Linked DNA regions of Homo sapiens: region 1 is linked to region 2. Evidence: fine-mapped expression QTL. Tissue or cell type: whole blood. Region 2 holds a variant in brackets; the other region holds the start of a gene. All regions are shown on one strand. Distances are between the middles of the regions.

The links. PIP is the estimated chance that this variant, and not a neighbour inherited with it, causes the effect.
Region 1: it holds the start of HIPK1, and the variant in region 2 is fine-mapped to the expression of HIPK1 in whole blood (INTERVAL, PIP above 0.99).

The regions. Positions count from the first base shown.
Region 1 is chr1:113,924,084-113,934,382 of GRCh38, forward strand. It overlaps HIPK1 (homeodomain interacting protein kinase 1), which reads left to right and starts at 5,241. Exons shown (of 16, transcript NM_198268.3): 1 at 5,241-5,449. HIPK1-AS1 (HIPK1 antisense RNA 1) reads right to left here and starts at 5,442. Exons shown (of 3, transcript NR_110726.1): 1 at 5,279-5,442; 2 at 4,161-4,305; 3 at 1-249. RefSeq lists an enhancer at 5,152-5,471 and silencers at 5,592-5,641, 5,662-5,971.
Region 2 is chr1:113,972,963-113,984,198 of GRCh38, forward strand. It overlaps HIPK1 (homeodomain interacting protein kinase 1), which reads left to right. Exons shown (of 16, transcript NM_198268.3): 16 at 62-4,907. The coding sequence ends at 550. It overlaps OLFML3 (olfactomedin like 3), which reads left to right and starts at 6,512. Exons shown (of 3, transcript NM_020190.5): 1 at 6,512-6,668; 2 at 7,370-7,655; 3 at 7,987-9,291. The coding sequence starts at 6,555. The coding sequence ends at 8,807. RefSeq lists enhancers at 3,873-4,450, 5,756-6,589, 8,257-9,089, 10,345-11,236. The variant T/G (reference allele first, on the strand shown) is at 3,767.

The sequences.
Region 1 (10,299 bases), 49 kb before region 2:
ACAATGCTGTGCAGCCATCAGCATGCTCTAGTTTCACCTCCCCTTTCATTTATTAGGAAAGCTTGTATTCAAATCTTCTTTAATCCCATAATATGCCCATTCATCCAAACTCCTGTTCCATTATTCCATCATTTCTGCTAGGACCCAGTCCCCAAAATGTCCATTATTCTAACCCCTGTCACTCTCATGCTAGATATTGTCCTTCATGAAACCAGATGAGGGGCCAGAACAACTTTTCCTGGTTTATACCTGTGAGAAGAGAAGTGATAGAGAATGTAGTCAAAATGATTCATTTCATAACTTCTCAGATGTAGCTGATGTGGACCCAAGCAGATTCCTTGGATATTGAGAGCTGAATATGGGTATTGACCAGAATAGATTCTACCATTCAGCTGGACCAGGCCATTCTTCCCAGATTGTCAGTCACCACTCATACTATGAGTAATCCTATATAGGAACCACACAGCTTCTGCCCAAACTATGCCACTAAAACCGCTCTCTCGAAGATCAAATACTATCTCTCTCTCTCTCTCTCTCTCTCTCTCTCCCTCTCTCAGAGATGGGAGTAGTGGCTCTCACCAATATCAGTAATATCTATCTATCTATCTATCTATCTATCTATCTATCTATCTATCTATCCATCCATCCATCCATCCATGTATCTAATCTATCTACCTTAGAGATGGGGGTCTCAATATGTTGCCCAGGCTGGATTTGAACTCCTGGGCTCAAGCAATCCTCCTGCCTCAGCCTCCTGAGAAGCTGGGACTATAAGCACATGCCATCATGGACCAGCTAGCAGTGACCTTTCCATAAGCCCCTGAGGTATGGGGATTGTTTGCTACACAAGTTAGCTAAACCTAACTATTCATTTGAATAGGCAACGGACAGTGTCTGCCAAATTTCCCTATGCAAGCTTTCTCTGCTAAGGATACTCAAAAGGAGTCTTAAGAGAAAAATCTTGGTAATACCTAAGGCTTGCAACCTGAGGAAAGGGATGAGCAGGGAGGCTGAAGGGCTGATATTCACATACAAGCATTCAGTAATAAATCACTGTGGGCCTAATGCTCAGATCTTTTTTTTTTGGTCGGGGGGACAGAGTCTTGCTCTGTTGCCCAGGCTGGAGTGCAGTGGCATGATCTTGGCTCACTGAAACCTCCGCCTCCCGGGTTCAAGCAATTCTCTGCCTCAGCCTCCCAAGTAGCTGGGATTACAGGCACCTGCCACCGCGCCTGGCTAATTTTTGTATTTTTAGTAGAGATGGGGTTTCACCATCTTGGCCAGGCTGGTCTTGAGCTCCTGACCTTGCAATCTACCCACCTTGGCCTCCCAAAGTGCTGGGATTACAGGCGTGAGCCACCACGCCCAGCCATGAAGAACATTTTATTACCCCTTACCAGAAAAAGTCCTGTATTCTTCAAAAATATTAAAGACAAAGAAAAGCTGAGGAACTGTGCCAGATTAAAGAACACTAAAGAGACATGACAATTAAATGTAATATATGATCCTAAACTGGATCTTGTGCTGGAAAATAAAAAAAATGCTAAGAATGATGTTATTTGATCAACTGACAACATTTGGAACATGGATGGTAAAGTATTACAGCAATGTTAAATTTCCTGGAGTTGTTAATTGTATGTATTTTGTTTACATAAGAGAATGTACTTATTAGGATATTCAAGTATTATGTGGTAAAGGAGGATGATGCATGCGATTTACTTTTAACTGCTTGGAAAAAAAAATATGTACGTGGGCTGGGCACGGTGGCTCACACCTATAATCTTAGCACTTTGGGAGGCTGAGGTGGGTGGATTGCCTGAGTTCAGGAGTTCAAGACCAGCCTGGGTAACACGGTGAAACCCCGTCTCTACTAAAATACAAAAAAATTAGTCAGGTGTGACAGCGGGCACCTGTAATCCCAGCTACTCGGGAGGCTGAGACAGGAGAATCGCTTAAACCCAGGAGGTGGAGGTTGCAGTGAGCCGAGATCATGCCACTGCACTCCAGCCTAGGTGACAGAGTGAGACTCTGTCTAAAAAAAAAAAAAAAAAAAAAAAAAAAAAAGGCATGTATGTGTGTAATATAACTCTATCTATCTATAACTGCAAATGATAAAGCAAAAGGGGCAAGATGTTAATAATCTGGGTCCTCTTTTTGTCACTCTTGCAACATATCTGTATGTTTAACATTATTTCCAAATAAAAAGTATTCTGGGGTCTGGATTTTTAAAAAATCATTGAGGTTCTCCTCCTGTTGGCTCAAGGGACTTTTCTGCTTTTTATCGTTTACTGCAGACCTTCACTCTAATCTGGTTTTCCCAGTTTCACAACCTGTTGGCTTCTATTTAAATTCTCTTTTTTTTCCTAGCCCCTAGGATTCACTATTTGTTTGAATAGTTTGCCTAGCTTTTTGGTTCAGCTTCTCTCAAGACACAGCCTTCTCATCAGCTTCTCCTATTTGGCCTTAAGCACTGCCGCTCTTGGGCAAATGACTTCTTGCCTGCAACACTGAATCTAGGCTGTAGGCCCTAGAAGGATGTCATACCCTGAATGAAACTTGAATGCTTCCGATTGCTAACTGCTCCACCTCCCTCTCCAGTTGCTCTGACTTGGTTTAGGAGGATGTATTTCACATATCTGCCCCTTCTCGCCTTCTTTCCTGTGTAATCAAACCCTCATCATAGTTTTCTGATTAGGATCCCTTTCTCCAGTCTTTACCCACTCCAGCTAGCCCTCTTCCTTCACCATCACTAGTTCTCTCTCACATTACCTGTCTGAATAAACTTCTTTTTTGAGACAGAGTCTGGCTCTGTTTGCCCAGCCTAGACTGCAGTGGCACGATCTCGGCTCACTGCAACCTCTGCCTCCCGGATTCAAGCGATTCTCCTGCCTCAGCCTCCCGAGTAGCTGGGATTACAAGCATATGCCACCATATCTGGCTAATTTTTGTATTTGTAGTAGAGATGGGGTTTCACTGTGTTGGCCAGGCTGGTCTTGAACTCCTGACCTCCAGTGATCTGCCACCTTGGCTTCCCAAAGTGCTGGGATTACAGGCATGAGCCACTGTGCCTGGCTACCTGTGCGAATAAACTTCTAACAGCTCTACATTGCCTTTCAAAATCTGACTCAATTTACCTTACTACTTCCAAATCGTGCAACTTCTCTGCTTAACTGTAAGCTCCTTCAGGGCACAGACCATGCCTTTTCTTCTGTGTATCCTTAATTTCTTTTTTTTTTATTTCTTTCTTTCTTTCTTTTTTTTTTTTTTGAGACAGAGTCTCACTGTCGCCCAGGCTGGAGTGCAATGGTGCAATCTCGGCTCATGGTAGCCTTCTTCTCCTGGGTTCCAGCGGTTCTTCTGCTTAAGCCTCCAGGGTAGCTGGGATTACAGGCATGCGCCACTACACTTGGCTAATGTTTGTATTTTTAGTAGAGACGGGGTTTCACCATGTTGGCCAGGCTGGTCTCGAACTCCTGACCTCAGGTGATTCACCTGCCTCAGCCTCCCGAAGTGCTGGGATTACAGGCATGAGCCACCACACCCAGCCCCTTAATTTCTTATATAGTGCCTAGCACACAGAAGATGCTCTATAAATAGTTACTGAATGGACAAATGACTAAACTTTGAAACTTCTTTGACCTTACTATGCTCAAATATCACTTCTGATGTTCTTCTCCGACTCTCTCACTTATCTTATATATGTCTGCACACGTTTTTTCCTCATTAGACTGTAAGGTCCCTGAGGGAAAAGACCATGCTTTATTCACCTGTCTCATTCATACCTGACCCAGTGTCTAGAAGAGTGTATAGCACAGAGCAGGCACACAAGCAGTTTGCTGGATGAATGAGTGAATGATACTAAAGAGGAGAAAATACAGACTTTAAGAAGCTCTCCGTATAGTGAGAAAGACTGAGGACCTAAGAGCAATGAAAATAGAAGTTAACAAGTATAAATAAAGAAGGTACAGGTTAATTTAAGTAATCAGATGATGATGCAGAATTCAAATAAAATAGGAGTCAATCAGCAAAGGTTCCCGAAAGGGTGAATTCTGAGAGATATTTGAAAAGAGGAAAGGGACATAACTTGAGAGAGCAGGAGTTTAGGAACATGTCAGAGAGTTAGGTTGAACCAAGGCATGATAAACATGTTTGAAGCTTACATTCTGAGCAGGATCTGTTCTACCCAGACCACAGGTTTCTGCCTTTTTTTCTGGCTCATCAAGCAGGCATGTTTACCCACTCTTTTTATCTTCATGTTTCCCAGGTCAGCCCAATGTGAGGACTTTAAGTAGTAGAAGGAAGTTTCTGTGAAAATATGCAAACAAAACTGCCTTGTGGGATCGAACATTTTTGGTAACCCTAGTTCTCTAGGGAAATAAACTTCCCTGTTCCAGATAAAATGGAACTGCTCCCCGTGTTGTTAAGCCAGAGAGAAAGCCAAATGACTTCCCTTAAAAGGTACTTCAGCGCATTTTACACAAATCATAGTTTTCTGTGTGTGTTATGGGGATCCAAGGAAATCAAAGATGTTAATGAGTGAGATTTGAGAAACAAAACTTGATAGTAGAATTTTGTCTTAGCCACAACTGCCCTTCTCCTCACAGAGTATATGCAAATACCGATGGTGACGGACAGTCACTTTCTAGAGCTCAGATCACTGCTGCCTCCAGCACTTGTGGGATGGAAAAAATGAAGAAATTACAGTTGCCCTAAAAATGTCCCCCACTTCAGGAACCTGAATATTTTACACAGCAGGAGATACATCGGAAGTCCTACAGAATCTCTTGACTTTGGGAGATGCAACTGCTTTTCTATTAGGATAACCTAATTTTCTGTGTCCATTTTCTCAGAATGTTGTGCCCAACGCGTTCTGTTTCCTAAATACCCAGCCTTCCTTCTGGTAGAGGCAAGAAAATTATGCTAGCATTCGCTCACTGCATGTTTTGAGCGTTTGAGTTCAGAGTACAGCTATTCTCTCTCCTCGTAATGTAAACACAGGTTCCCACGGCGGCAATGGGAGACTCCCCTAAGGGGCTCTTGACGTACAGGGAGACTTCCAGATATGGTACACAGATGTCACATTGCTAGAACGTCTCTAGACGGCAACGAAACATTAAAGCCTAACCTGAGGTAATCCCTCACCGGCAGTGAAGCTCCTCTGCTAGGCACTGTCGTCCCGTACACTGCCCAAGCTCTGGGGGTGTCACACTAAACTGTGGTGATGTCACACTAGCTGGGATGACATTTTACAGTTGGATCCCGTACCACCGCCAGGCACCTTTAAATCACCGCAGAGTCTGCAGTGCGGAGGGGGCGGGAAGTCCAGGCCCCGCACTCGATCCACGCTGGCTCCCTACGGAGGCCCACCTACTCGAGGCCCACCGACTCCTACTGCAATCAGTACTATGCGATCGTCCTAGAGAGTCCATTCAGCTGCACTTCCGCCTCAGTAGGTGTCATGGCGCGGGGCGGGTGAATAGTTCCGGCGAGGCGGGGCCGGCCGGGTTGAGGGACGGCCGCTCGGCATTCCGTTCGTCGGGTCTGGCGACAACGGCGGCTGCGGAGCAAGGGGCCCGGCGGTAGCCCCGGACGGCAGCAGGAGGCCGAGGCGGGAGCGCGCGGGGCTGAGGCGGCGGCGGCGGCGGCGGGAAGGGGCTGGGTGGTGGAGCGGGAGGGAGGCTGAGGAGGCTCCCCCTGCGGGACGGGCGCGGGGACGGCTCCGGGGGGCGGGGGCCGGGGCCCGGGCCGGCTCGCGCGGGGGGTATGATGACCCGGCTGCGGGGCCCCAGATCTCGTCTCCTCCGCCGCCTCCTCACGGCAGCCCCAGCTCGCGGCTGAGAACCAGACACACCGGCGGTGAGTGGGGACGGGCAGGAGGGGTCCTCGGCGGGGAGCGACTTCCCCTCAGCTCCCTGAGGCGGGGCCGGGCCGGCCGCCGGCTCTCCTGGAGCGCCCAGCCTGCCGGGGGCGCCTTCCTCAAAGGGCCCCTGCCTGGGACCGGGCGCCGCGTCTTGCGGCCCGGCCGCTCACTGCCGCTGAGGGGATTGCCTTCCCAGGAAGGTGGGGAGGCTCCGGGCTGGTTTTCGGGGCAACTCCCCCTGCCTCCTGCCACTTCTCGCCTGGGCGTGTTGTCCTTAAGTGACAGGGGACCGCCTTGCGTCTCCTCACTCGGCCGGTTTTTTCCCCGGCTGTCGTGGCAGGTTCCCAGTGTGTGGCTTGTGCGTGTGTACTTCACAGCTCCGCTTATCACCATGGTTTTGGGTTATTTGTGCTGTTTGGGACCAGGAAGCCGTGCCTGGAGAGGACGACAGTGGGGTGGGTGTGGAAGCTTTTCTGTCGTCTCCGCTGATGTTCTGTAGTCGTTAGGCTTGTAATTCGTAATGACGGTGGAGACTACGTGAGACCAGCCCACCTAATGTATATCTGTACAAGGGAGATCTAGAGGTCTGGCCCAAAGGGAAACTTTTGCTGCCACCACTTTCAAAGCTTTCGTTAAAAAAACAAAAGGGAGGGGGAAGGTGGAGAAACAACCAAAATTCTGGTAAGGCCCACACTGTTCACAGGTCTGTGGGGAAGAGTCCCCTTTTTGTGCTTAGCAACCAAGACGTGGAGTTCCGTCTCCAGGAGCGTTGGTCTAACCTCCAGTTTGTTGTGGTGACGAGCTGTGAGCAATGGCCTGTGTTTATGCTGGGCGAGCTTTCTTTCCTACTTGGGGAGGGGGGTTCAGGATGGGAGGATGCGGGTAGGGAAGAGGGGGGGAAAACCCCCAAGCTCCAGTAAGTCTTTTCTTTACTTAATCACTGATTCTGTTGTAGGTAGACTCATTTAGAGGCAGTCCTAGATGCTCTTTCTTGTCTATTAGTGACACTTTGGGAATTCTCAGTAATTGCATCAACATAATACTTTCAGCTATAGACTCTCTGTCCCAATCTGTCCTTTATCTTGTTTCTTAGTAACTGGTGAAAACAGCAGTGTGGCTTCCCGCTCTTGATGAAATAGGGTTAAATTAAGTGGCTGATGCCCTCAGCAAACCTACAATTTTCCTTTTGTTTGTGTAAAGCTATTTTTGATCTCTGGTCTGTGGGTTTTTTTTTTTTTTTTGTAAGATTATAGAGAATGCAAACTATTACTAGCTTTTTTCATATGGAAGCCTAAAGCTTTCTATAAAACATTTTAAAATCTAACAAATCATTTGACCTAATTTTCATTATTCAGCTGGTGATTTTGGATCTTTACATGTAATTATCTCAGGGTTCTGTGTTATAATACTGTTATGATGAAGGGTGGCATTGACTTTAAGATACTGTTCCTGGCTTGAAAGATATTTTAGTAAAGTACTTGCGGTTGGAACTGGAGGCAGCCAAGCCAGTAAAGTATCTTAGAATAAAATGGTGAATGAGATCTTATAAATATACTGGCTCTGGTTGGCAAGTAGAACTTTTGCTGGTGATACCTTCATGAATAGTTTATCTCTCGACACTGTAGTTTTGTGGTTTTTTGAGCAAGTTCGTTGGTAACTTGAGACTTCAAACCAAACCAGAACTTCCTTCTAAAAGAAAAAAAAAGAAGAGATAATCTCAAAGTTCACAATTCTTTGGAAAATAAACTTCTTTCATTCTGTGCTTTTGTTTTTATAAGCACAGCTCCATCAATGATTTGTTGGTACAAATCAGTGAGTCATACCGGCCTTGTAAAGTTCTTACACTTGGAACTTGTGCAGCTTGTTAGTTATATATTGTAACTGGTCTTGTAATTTGAAGTAATTTTGCAAACATGAGCTGCTTGATCTGCCACCTGCATGAGTGTATAACAGCAGTCTGTATTTTTTAGGTCTTTTTAAAAAAAATTTACTATTATTCCTCCCGTTATCTTCCCTTCCTCTCCCTTTGTGCCATTCTGAACACAAGTCATCAAGATTATTTTCCTTTAAGTACCACTTCAACAATCACTGGTTTGTCTTTTGGTTCCTTTTGTTTTTGTTCCTGATCTTCCCTTTAGTTGTTGGAACCCAGCTCCTAAATGCCTAATATATTCCTGTAGTGCATAATTTGGCACTTGAAAAATTTACATCCTGTTTTCATATTTTTCTTTCTTTTTCATGTGTTATATCATTTCAGCAACATTTTAAGTTTTTTGAAGGTAAGGAAACTTACATTTCTTTTAGATTCTTTAAGGGTACCTGGTACAGTGCTTTCCCAGAGTGCTTAAGGAAAAAGAATGAGAAGACCTTTGCCAGCATTGCTACTCATTAGCGCTGGGTAAAACTCGTTTGGCCTTTTTGGATCTGTTTTTTTTTTTTTTTTTTTTTATTTGAGACAAGATCTCGCCCTGTCGCCCAGGTCGGAGTGCCGTGGTGGGTTCAGGCTGGAGTGCAGTGGTGGGTTCAAGTGATTCTCATACCTCTGCCTCCTAAGTAGCTAGGACTACAGGCACTACAGGCACGCACCACCATGCCTGGCTAATATTTGTATTTTTAGTAGAGATAGGGTTTTGCCATGTTGGCCAGGCTGGTCTCAGACTCCTGACCTCAAGTGATCCACCTGCCTCGGCCTCCCAAAGTGCTGAGATTACAGGCGTGAGCCACCATGCCTGGCCTGGATCGCCTTTTTCTCATCTCGGAATTAGGGGGTTTTAGAATCTTTAAGGTCCCTTTTATCTGTAAGAGTTCCAGTACTTTTTTGCTAGTGTCTTCTGCTCCAGTTAAATATATCTCCTTACTCTACACGGTTTTTTATTTTTCCACATCCTTTGGCATACTAGCATAGCAAAAGTCATCTCATTCTTCTGAAAGAGCCTCCTCCATCTTCCATTCTCCAAACTGCTGTTGCCTTACTTAAGTCCCGTTTTCCTTCAGCCTTTGCTGGCATATTGTTTATGTTTCATATTGATCTCTGCTTTGTTAATTTTAACTTTTTCTTATCCTGGAAACTCCTCAAGGTATAGTTTTCTTAATTCTAAGCTTTATAGACCTATAGACTGTTATGTGCAGGTACTAAAATGTAGTACCTTTTTACTAAACACAAAGCACTTACTTTTCTTTTGTTCTGTTGCCGTAGTCATTCCAAATAAATCTAAGTGAACTATTGATTTTGATACAAAGCAACAGCCTCTGCCACACTGAAGAAGTGAGCTTTAAGCAGAGACTAGAAGGGTAAGTAAAAGTTAGGAAAAGAAAAGCCTAAGGGGGAAAATGAAGTTCAGAGAGGAAACATGTTGAAGGAACTAGGGCCAGAGAAGGCAAGGTCTATTGTGGGAACCCAGAGAGACTTGGTAGTATTGGAAGAGAAAGTGCCTGGGGAAAAGCGCAGATGAAACAAGGCTGTGCAAGTAATCGTGGTCCAGATCTTGCAAGGCCTGGTAATCCAAATTAGGAATTTTGGTGTTTGTCCTAAGGTTTTAAGTGGGGGATAGGTACACTTTTTTTTTTTCAGATGTGCATTTTTAAAAGCTTCAGTTGAGAGGTGAATAATGAATTGGGAGAGGGGAGCTTAGAAAAGGGGCTTGAGGCCAGCATCGTGGCTCACACCTGTAATCCCAGCACTTTTGGAGGCTGAGGTAGGTGGATCACTTTAGGAGTCTGAGACCAGCCTGAGCAACATGGTGAAACCCTGTCTCTACAAAAAATACAAAAAAATTAGCTGGGCGTGGTGGCATGTACTGGTAGTCCCAGTTACTCGGGAGGCTGAGGTAGGAGGGTGGATTGAGCCCTGGAGGTCCAGGCTGCAGTGAACGAACCATGATCGTGTACTGCACTCCGGTCTGGGTGACAGAGTCTCAAATAAAGGGGGGAAGTTGAGAGTACAATTTGGAGGAAACCAGTTAAGCTGTTTAAGTATGGGATTGTGCAGTAGGGGTGGAGAAAACTTAGGAGAGTAGAGAGAGATTTAGGTGTTCTGTTGGGAAGAATTTTCTTCCCAAACTTGTCTCACTTTGTTTTTACAGAAGATGTACTCTTATCATCTGTAAAAAATATGTATCAGAGTATGTGATAGACAATATGTATACCTGTGTTCATGTCATCTGAGGATAAGTGCTGGAGCAAGAAATCAATATATAGTACAGTTTTTAGGTCATTTGGCTAACCAGCTGTTAAATTGTATGAAAGAGGCAAAGATAACATTGAGCAAAAGCAACAGGAATTTATTACTGGTGTGTCAGGAAAAAGGTTACTGAGGGGTAAGGACAAATCAATGGAAAATGATTACCTGGGTTGTCTTATCCAACTGTTCCATTCAGGGTTATAATATTTGGATCCTTTTAATAAGATTATTTGCCTATAGTGCTTATAGTGTGGAGCAC
Region 2 (11,236 bases):
CCTTTGGTGCCCTGAGCTGGAGTGACCTCAGGATTCCTCACTTCTTCCTTCTTTCTTCCAGAACCAGCAGTCATCGGCGGCTCCAACCTCACAGGAGAGAAGCAGCAACCCAGCCCCCCGCAGGCAGCAGGCGTTTGTGGCCCCTCTCTCCCAAGCCCCCTACACCTTCCAGCATGGCAGCCCGCTACACTCGACAGGGCACCCACACCTTGCCCCGGCCCCTGCTCACCTGCCAAGCCAGGCTCATCTGTATACGTATGCTGCCCCGACTTCTGCTGCTGCACTGGGCTCAACCAGCTCCATTGCTCATCTTTTCTCCCCACAGGGTTCCTCAAGGCATGCTGCAGCCTATACCACTCACCCTAGCACTTTGGTGCACCAGGTCCCTGTCAGTGTTGGGCCCAGCCTCCTCACTTCTGCCAGCGTGGCCCCTGCTCAGTACCAACACCAGTTTGCCACCCAATCCTACATTGGGTCTTCCCGAGGCTCAACAATTTACACTGGATACCCGCTGAGTCCTACCAAGATCAGCCAGTATTCCTACTTATAGTTGGTGAGCATGAGGGAGGAGGAATCATGGCTACCTTCTCCTGGCCCTGCGTTCTTAATATTGGGCTATGGAGAGATCCTCCTTTACCCTCTTGAAATTTCTTAGCCAGCAACTTGTTCTGCAGGGGCCCACTGAAGCAGAAGGTTTTTCTCTGGGGGAACCTGTCTCAGTGTTGACTGCATTGTTGTAGTCTTCCCAAAGTTTGCCCTATTTTTAAATTCATTATTTTTGTGACAGTAATTTTGGTACTTGGAAGAGTTCAGATGCCCATCTTCTGCAGTTACCAAGGAAGAGAGATTGTTCTGAAGTTACCCTCTGAAAAATATTTTGTCTCTCTGACTTGATTTCTATAAATGCTTTTAAAAACAAGTGAAGCCCCTCTTTATTTCATTTTGTGTTATTGTGATTGCTGGTCAGGAAAAATGCTGATAGAAGGAGTTGAAATCTGATGACAAAAAAAGAAAAATTACTTTTTGTTTGTTTATAAACTCAGACTTGCCTATTTTATTTTAAAAGCGGCTTACACAATCTCCCTTTTGTTTATTGGACATTTAAACTTACAGAGTTTCAGTTTTGTTTTAATGTCATATTATACTTAATGGGCAATTGTTATTTTTGCAAAACTGGTTACGTATTACTCTGTGTTACTATTGAGATTCTCTCAATTGCTCCTGTGTTTGTTATAAAGTAGTGTTTAAAAGGCAGCTCACCATTTGCTGGTAACTTAATGTGAGAGAATCCATATCTGCGTGAAAACACCAAGTATTCTTTTTAAATGAAGCACCATGAATTCTTTTTTAAATTATTTTTTAAAAGTCTTTCTCTCTCTGATTCAGCTTAAATTTTTTTATCGAAAAAGCCATTAAGGTGGTTATTATTACATGGTGGTGGTGGTTTTATTATATGCAAAATCTCTGTCTATTATGAGATACTGGCATTGATGAGCTTTGCCTAAAGATTAGTATGAATTTTCAGTAATACACCTCTGTTTTGCTCATCTCTCCCTTCTGTTTTATGTGATTTGTTTGGGGAGAAAGCTAAAAAAACCTGAAACCAGATAAGAACATTTCTTGTGTATAGCTTTTATACTTCAAAGTAGCTTCCTTTGTATGCCAGCAGCAAATTGAATGCTCTCTTATTAAGACTTATATAATAAGTGCATGTAGGAATTGCAAAAAATATTTTAAAAATTTATTACTGAATTTAAAAATATTTTAGAAGTTTTGTAATGGTGGTGTTTTAATATTTTACATAATTAAATATGTACATATTGATTAGAAAAATATAACAAGCAATTTTTCCTGCTAACCCAAAATGTTATTTGTAATCAAATGTGTAGTGATTACACTTGAATTGTGTACTTAGTGTGTATGTGATCCTCCAGTGTTATCCCGGAGATGGATTGATGTCTCCATTGTATTTAAACCAAAATGAACTGATACTTGTTGGAATGTATGTGAACTAATTGCAATTATATTAGAGCATATTACTGTAGTGCTGAATGAGCAGGGGCATTGCCTGCAAGGAGAGGAGACCCTTGGAATTGTTTTGCACAGGTGTGTCTGGTGAGGAGTTTTTCAGTGTGTGTCTCTTCCTTCCCTTTCTTCCTCCTTCCCTTATTGTAGTGCCTTATATGATAATGTAGTGGTTAATAGAGTTTACAGTGAGCTTGCCTTAGGATGGACCAGCAAGCCCCCGTGGACCCTAAGTTGTTCACCGGGATTTATCAGAACAGGATTAGTAGCTGTATTGTGTAATGCATTGTTCTCAGTTTCCCTGCCAACATTGAAAAATAAAAACAGCAGCTTTTCTCCTTTACCACCACCTCTACCCCTTTCCATTTTGGATTCTCGGCTGAGTTCTCACAGAAGCATTTTCCCCATGTGGCTCTCTCACTGTGCGTTGCTACCTTGCTTCTGTGAGAATTCAGGAAGCAGGTGAGAGGAGTCAAGCCAATATTAAATATGCATTCTTTTAAAGTATGTGCAATCACTTTTAGAATGAATTTTTTTTTCCTTTTCCCATGTGGCAGTCCTTCCTGCACATAGTTGACATTCCTAGTAAAATATTTGCTTGTTGAAAAAAACATGTTAACAGATGTGTTTATACCAAAGAGCCTGTTGTATTGCTTACCATGTCCCCATACTATGAGGAGAAGTTTTGTGGTGCCGCTGGTGACAAGGAACTCACAGAAAGGTTTCTTAGCTGGTGAAGAATATAGAGAAGGAACCAAAGCCTGTTGAGTCATTGAGGCTTTTGAGGTTTCTTTTTTAACAGCTTGTATAGTCTTGGGGCCCTTCAAGCTGTGAAATTGTCCTTGTACTCTCAGCTCCTGCATGGATCTGGGTCAAGTAGAAGGTACTGGGGATGGGGACATTCCTGCCCATAAAGGATTTGGGGAAAGAAGATTAATCCTAAAATACAGGTGTGTTCCATCTGAATTGAAAATGATATATTTGAGATATAATTTTAGGACTGGTTCTGTGTAGATAGAGATGGTGTCAAGGAGGTGCAGGATGGAGATGGGAGATTTCATGGAGCCTGGTCAGCCAGCTCTGTACCAGGTTGAACACCGAGGAGCTGTCAAAGTATTTGGAGTTTCTTCATTGTAAGGAGTAAGGGCTTCCAAGATGGGGCAGGTAGTCCGTACAGCCTACCAGGAACATGTTGTGTTTTCTTTATTTTTTAAAATCATTATATTGAGTTGTGTTTTCAGCACTATATTGGTCAAGATAGCCAAGCAGTTTGTATAATTTCTGTCACTAGTGTCATACAGTTTTCTGGTCAACATGTGTGATCTTTGTGTCTCCTTTTTGCCAAGCACATTCTGATTTTCTTGTTGGAACACAGGTCTAGTTTCTAAAGGACAAATTTTTTGTTCCTTGTCTTTTTTCTGTAAGGGACAAGATTTGTTGTTTTTGTAAGAAATGAGATGCAGGAAAGAAAACCAAATCCCATTCCTGCACCCCAGTCCAATAAGCAGATACCACTTAAGATAGGAGTCTAAACTCCACAGAAAAGGATAATACCAAGAGCTTGTATTGTTACCTTAGTCACTTGCCTAGCAGTGTGTGGCTTTAAAAACTAGAGATTTTTCAGTCTTAGTCTGCAAACTGGCATTTCCGATTTTCCAGCATAAAAATCCACCTGTGTCTGCTGAATGTGTATGTATGTGCTCACTGTGGCTTTAGATTCTGTCCCTGGGGTTAGCCCTGT[T/G]GGCCCTGACAGGAAGGGAGGAAGCCTGGTGAATTTAGTGAGCAGCTGGCCTGGGTCACAGTGACCTGACCTCAAACCAGCTTAAGGCTTTAAGTCCTCTCTCAGAACTTGGCATTTCCAACTTCTTCCTTTCCGGGTGAGAGAAGAAGCGGAGAAGGGTTCAGTGTAGCCACTCTGGGCTCATAGGGACACTTGGTCACTCCAGAGTTTTTAATAGCTCCCAGGAGGTGATATTATTTTCAGTGCTCAGCTGAAATACCAACCCCAGGAATAAGAACTCCATTTCAAACAGTTCTGGCCATTCTGAGCCTGCTTTTGTGATTGCTCATCCATTGTCCTCCACTAGAGGGGCTAAGCTTGACTGCCCTTAGCCAGGCAAGCACAGTAATGTGTGTTTTGTTCAGCATTATTATGCAAAAATTCACTAGTTGAGATGGTTTGTTTTAGGATAGGAAATGAAATTGCCTCTCAGTGACAGGAGTGGCCCGAGCCTGCTTCCTATTTTGATTTTTTTTTTTTTTAACTGATAGATGGTGCAGCATGTCTACATGGTTGTTTGTTGCTAAACTTTATATAATGTGTGGTTTCAATTCAGCTTGAAAAATAATCTCACTACATGTAGCAGTACATTATATGTACATTATATGTAATGTTAGTATTTCTGCTTTGAATCCTTGATATTGCAATGGAATTCCTACTTTATTAAATGTATTTGATATGCTAGTTATTGTGTGCGATTTAAACTTTTTTTGCTTTCTCCCTTTTTTTGGTTGTGCGCTTTCTTTTACAACAAGCCTCTAGAAACAGATAGTTTCTGAGAATTACTGAGCTATGTTTGTAATGCAGATGTACTTAGGGAGTATGTAAAATAATCATTTTAACAAAAGAAATAGATATTTAAAATTTAATACTAACTATGGGAAAAGGGTCCATTGTGTAAAACATAGTTTATCTTTGGATTCAATGTTTGTCTTTGGTTTTACAAAGTAGCTTGTATTTTCAGTATTTTCTACATAATATGGTAAAATGTAGAGCAATTGCAATGCATCAATAAAATGGGTAAATTTTCTGACTTATGTGGCTGTTTTTGACTTCTGTTATAGGATATAAAGGGGATCAATAAATGACATCTTTGAAAGTGGCTAAGCATATTGTATTTGAACATCAGTAGAGTACTAGAGACAATTTCATTCTTCACACAAATCTCCATACTGGAAATGAATAGGGTTTGGCAGGGAATACTTCCCAAGAATGCAGTGTCCAGGGTCCTTACTTCACATCATCTGGATCTGACCCTTTGAAAGAGGTAGAAGACTTCTGAGACCGGCTAATTAAGCTTTGTTTCCTCATATGTTTTGCCAGATAGCAGTAGCAGAATGAAAAGATGAGTAACCACAGGAAGCTGCTATTTTTCCCCTCCTTTCAAACTGTACTGTTAGAGTCATGGTCCTTTTTACAGAAGGAACCTCTCATCAGATTCTGTTGATTCTAAAGTGAATAGAATTTCTCCCGATAAAGAAATAGGGGTTTGTTTCGATTAATGACTGCAGGTCTCTGAGTAAATGCTCTATTTGATTTTTTTTTTCGGCCCGTGTGTCTACCTTATGGCCCAAGTCTACCTTATGGTGGCCATTAATTCATTTTGGGCTCCTGCAGCCTTAGTTGGGATATAGAAATGAGAAACACTCAGAAATACCCTTTTGGACCACAACCAAGAGAAATAACCAATAGTCTTTTCTCCCAGTGGTAAGGAAGTCAGAATACATTGATCTAGACTGCAACAACATATATATATATATCAGATTCCGCCCCCCCGCAATACATGAATGTATAGTAAATTAGTGTGAACTCACTGAACACTCCTCAGTTTTGGTGAGAGACTATATCTGGCCTCTTTCAAGCAAAGGAAAGCCATGTAAAACAGCGCTGCTGTCAGCCTTAACTTCCAGACGATCGAGTTAATTTACTAACTTCTCAGTGACCTGTTTTTTTTTTTTTTTTAATCTCAGTTATATTTTCTTCCTTGGGCTAAATCAGATATTTGCATAGCCCCCAAAGTAGTAATTGGATAGTCTTGGGGGAAATATGCATTTCAGTGGTGAAAACCCCTGTAAATTCAATATATTTGGCTTTTGTGGAAAATTTTCCTCATGGGGTGAAGTCTAAGCCTTAGTTTCTGTATTATCATGAGAGATGACACCAGCTGCTTAGCACAAGGTGGCGCCAATGAGCTTTAGAATAAGTTGGGCTTGACCACTTGGGCCATTGTTTTCCTGCTTCCTCCCTTCAAGCCTCACCTCCCCAGCTCCCAGCTTCTACTGAACAAGGCTGAAAACCCACTCTATTGCAGGGAAAGGGAAAGATTAATGAAAAATGTCAGTTTCTTAAGTCAGCACTGGTGAAACTTTCCTAAAACAGGAATGGCGTTTGCTGAGTTTTCTCTGGGGTCTCTGCTTTCTGCAGCTAGCTTCCCTGCTTGACTGCCTAGAAGGCCTCTGCTTTCGGGTTTCCATCTCTTTCCCCTCCAGAGGACCCTACAGCCTAGGCGGGAGGTGGTTAAGGCTTCTGGCTGCTGTGCAATGGGGCCATCTGTGTTTGATCAATCCTGGCGGAAAGGAGGGGGTGGGGGTTGTAAAGAGAACTGAAAGCATTCCAGAGTAGTGAGAGAGACCCAGAGATCAGGAGAGAAGGCACCGCCCCCACCCCGCCTCCAAAGCTAACCCTCGGGCTTGAGGGGAAGAGGCTGACTGTACGTTCCTTCTACTCTGGCACCACTCTCCAGGCTGCCATGGGGCCCAGCACCCCTCTCCTCATCTTGTTCCTTTTGTCATGGTCGGGACCCCTCCAAGGACAGCAGCACCACCTTGTGGAGTACATGGAACGCCGACTAGCTGCTTTAGAGGTGAGGGACCCCTTTCTCTTCTAGCCCCGCCTAGAAGGATTCCAGGGCTATTGGTTCAACCAGTTTGTTAGGGATCTGGGGATAACAAGAAAGGGCTCTGTTAGAGTCTACAGAAAATTCTCTCTTAATAAGAGGACCTTCGGAATGACAAGCCCTCCTCTTACCCCACATAGAACAATTCCAAAGCAAATCGACTTTTGCGTTTTACCTCTGGGATTAGATAGAATAAGGGGGCAGAGTGGAAACGAGAGCCAAAATTGTGGGGCTGCATCTCCAGAGAAGGTGATGATTCTGTTGAAGTTGGAGGTTCCCGGGGAATCTATAACTTCCTGTCTTTTTAACAGGTTGAGATCCGTAGCATTTTAGTGTCCGAGAGGATAATTGCTAAGGGAGCAGAGACCTCTTCACACCTTCATGCGCTTAGACCTGCCTAGAGGCTCAGATGGCTCAGTGGCACTGCTCACAGAGAACACAGGCTGGAGGACATGGAGTCGGGGTAGGGGCCTAGGTGAATCTCAGCTAGGCTCTTTGCACATTTAGCACCTCTGCACATCTGGTTTCCTTTTCTGCAGGAGTGGAAGGGGATATTGAAGCCTGGCTGAGTTTGCTCTTTTTTTCCCATTCCTGACTCCCGAGTTGGGCCTCTCCCTGCCTGGGAGTTGTAACCCTGCAGCCTCCCTCCTGATCCCCCATCCCTTCAGGAACGGCTGGCCCAGTGCCAGGACCAGAGTAGTCGGCATGCTGCTGAGCTGCGGGACTTCAAGAACAAGATGCTGCCACTGCTGGAGGTGGCAGAGAAGGAGCGGGAGGCACTCAGAACTGAGGCCGACACCATCTCCGGGAGAGTGGATCGTCTGGAGCGGGAGGTAGACTATCTGGAGACCCAGAACCCAGCTCTGCCCTGTGTAGAGTTTGATGAGAAGGTGACTGGAGGCCCTGGGACCAAAGGCAAGGGAAGAAGGAATGAGAAGTACGATATGGTGACAGGTAAATAATCTGAAAGCAGGCCCCTAACTCTTCTCAGAACCGATATTCTTCCTTCCTTGCTTCTTACTCTTTTTTTCGCTTTGTCCCAGTCCATTGTGGCTCTGTCTTCTGGAATCTGTTTTAGGGAAACCTCTGTAATGCCAGGTCTATTAAGGAGAGGTTCTGGGGATCCAGGCCGCTGTGGTACCCGCTCTTTCTCAATTCTCCCTAAGATTGGAGGCAACCACTGGGCAAATGCTCACTATTCTCCAGATCACCCACCCTGGGGGAGTTCCTGCTGGAGGCATCTAATTCTTGCCTCTATTTCCTTTTCCTGTGCTTTTCTCATCAGACTGTGGCTACACAATCTCTCAAGTGAGATCAATGAAGATTCTGAAGCGATTTGGTGGCCCAGCTGGTCTATGGACCAAGGATCCACTGGGGCAAACAGAGAAGATCTACGTGTTAGATGGGACACAGAATGACACAGCCTTTGTCTTCCCAAGGCTGCGTGACTTCACCCTTGCCATGGCTGCCCGGAAAGCTTCCCGAGTCCGGGTGCCCTTCCCCTGGGTAGGCACAGGGCAGCTGGTATATGGTGGCTTTCTTTATTTTGCTCGGAGGCCTCCTGGAAGACCTGGTGGAGGTGGTGAGATGGAGAACACTTTGCAGCTAATCAAATTCCACCTGGCAAACCGAACAGTGGTGGACAGCTCAGTATTCCCAGCAGAGGGGCTGATCCCCCCCTACGGCTTGACAGCAGACACCTACATCGACCTGGCAGCTGATGAGGAAGGTCTTTGGGCTGTCTATGCCACCCGGGAGGATGACAGGCACTTGTGTCTGGCCAAGTTAGATCCACAGACACTGGACACAGAGCAGCAGTGGGACACACCATGTCCCAGAGAGAATGCTGAGGCTGCCTTTGTCATCTGTGGGACCCTCTATGTCGTCTATAACACCCGTCCTGCCAGTCGGGCCCGCATCCAGTGCTCCTTTGATGCCAGCGGCACCCTGACCCCTGAACGGGCAGCACTCCCTTATTTTCCCCGCAGATATGGTGCCCATGCCAGCCTCCGCTATAACCCCCGAGAACGCCAGCTCTATGCCTGGGATGATGGCTACCAGATTGTCTATAAGCTGGAGATGAGGAAGAAAGAGGAGGAGGTTTGAGGAGCTAGCCTTGTTTTTTGCATCTTTCTCACTCCCATACATTTATATTATATCCCCACTAAATTTCTTGTTCCTCATTCTTCAAATGTGGGCCAGTTGTGGCTCAAATCCTCTATATTTTTAGCCAATGGCAATCAAATTCTTTCAGCTCCTTTGTTTCATACGGAACTCCAGATCCTGAGTAATCCTTTTAGAGCCCGAAGAGTCAAAACCCTCAATGTTCCCTCCTGCTCTCCTGCCCCATGTCAACAAATTTCAGGCTAAGGATGCCCCAGACCCAGGGCTCTAACCTTGTATGCGGGCAGGCCCAGGGAGCAGGCAGCAGTGTTCTTCCCCTCAGAGTGACTTGGGGAGGGAGAAATAGGAGGAGACGTCCAGCTCTGTCCTCTCTTCCTCACTCCTCCCTTCAGTGTCCTGAGGAACAGGACTTTCTCCACATTGTTTTGTATTGCAACATTTTGCATTAAAAGGAAAATCCACTGCTCCTCTCCTGTGTTTGTTTGGGGTAGCCCTCAGATCAAACTTCCCCCTGACCATCCAGTTTCTCCCTCCCAACCCATCCCCACTCCTTGAGCCATATTAAAGACTTGGGCGGGGCTCCCTTTGCTGAGGAAGAGTTTACTGTGAGGCGCCTGGGGGAGGTGGCAGAATCCCGCCACTTTAGGAGGCTGGACGAAAGGCCTCCTTCCACACCCACCGCCATCCACAGCAGCCAATCCACAGCAGCCATCCTAGAACCTCAGTGGCACCGTGCCTCTGGCTGTGAGACACTGGGGCCCAGGGCAGAGATTCCAGTTCCGATTCTCAGAGGATTTTGAACTACAAAATGCATGTTAGTTGCATTGCATTCTAGTGTGGAAACCAGAGCCCTGAATGCCTGTGTTTTTAGTAAGAACTGAAGTCTCCCCTCTAAAGTGGACTCTGCCCCGCACCCCAGACCTCCACTCCCACCTCCAGCGTTGTGCTCCTGCAGGGCCAGGTTGCACAATCATTCTTGGTCTGGACCGCTCTGATTTTCCTGCTGCCACGGCGTCTGCGGTTTGTGCAGGGAGGAGGGGCAGTGACCGTGTCCCAGATGTTGGCCTTACACGGTCTGCAGCCTATTCTTGCTTTCCTTTTCTCCACTCTCATCACCCTCACCTACCCACTCCAGCCCTGAACCTGGCTGAAGCCCGTCAGGACTTCTGGAAACTTAACCCTCTCTGGCCCATACCCTGGCCTCTGGCGTTGGATTGCAGAGCGTAATGTGGGGAAGAGGGAAGGGAGAAGGGAGAGGAGGAGGAAGGCTCCAGGCTTTGGACTCCAGTCTCCAGGAATCTGCTGATTTCTGCACCAGGCCCCCACCCCAGCCTCACCCTCACTGCTGCATGCTCAGCTCGCAGGGGCAAGGCTGGCTGATGGGCAGGATCCACTGCTTTCATGAGGAGTCCACCTCAGGCATGCCTGGGGGTCCTCTTGGTTATTTGCTCTAGCCAAGTGCGGGAAGGGGGCACAGCCTTCTCCCCAAAGCACAGCCCTCCTTCCCGCCCCAGGTGGGGTGGCTCAGTCAGGGCCCTGTGAGCCTCCCTTTATCTTCTTTTCTTTTCTCCTCAGGCAGAGCTGCTCCAGACGTAGGTTGATGAGGATGGGGAAAGAAAGACAGTGAAGCACCTCAGAAAGGCGCTATTATAGGGAGACCGGGGCGGGCAGGGGCTCTCTCCCATTGAATTCTCTCCTAATGTGGGGCTGGCAACAGTAATCACCACCTGTCAGCCCACGGAAGGGTCTGCCCACAGAACAGCTGGCTGCGGCACACGTGGTGCACAGGGAGGGGTTGAGGGGGAAGGGCATTCTGAGCACAGGCCTGGAGAATGGGGTCTGGGCCACACGGCTGGCAGAGCAGTGTGGGGACTGTGGGTGCCCCATGTGGAAGGGGAGCTTGTCTGCTCCCTAGCGTGACTGTGTGTGTGTGTGTGTGTGTGTGTGTTGGGGGTGGGAGGTGCCTGTGTGTGGCAGAGGTGCTTGTCTGCTCCCTAGTGTGACTGCGTATGTGTACGTGTATGTGTATATGTGCCTGCATGTGGCAGGGGAGCTTGTCTGCTAGCTTGTGTGGCTGTATGAGTGTGTGATAGGAGGCTGTAGGGTCAGGCCGTGTCTCTGGAGTTACCTTGTTAGAGCACCAAACACCAGGAGCGGCTCTGATGCCCTTGATGAGAGCATAACCTGAGACTCCGTGTGTATAAGTGACGTCAAGGAATATGTATTTGAAGTACATTCTTAACGCCTTATTACTTCCATGAAAATCAGGTAACCAGGTTCTTCCGCGTTGCATGTGTGTGCTTGTCTTTGTGGCATCTATCTTTGCCTGATTCCTCCTCCATGAGAAAGAAAAAAAGCATATCTTTTTTTGGCTTACAATTTCTGTGGAAAAGTTCATTCAGGCTTTTCTG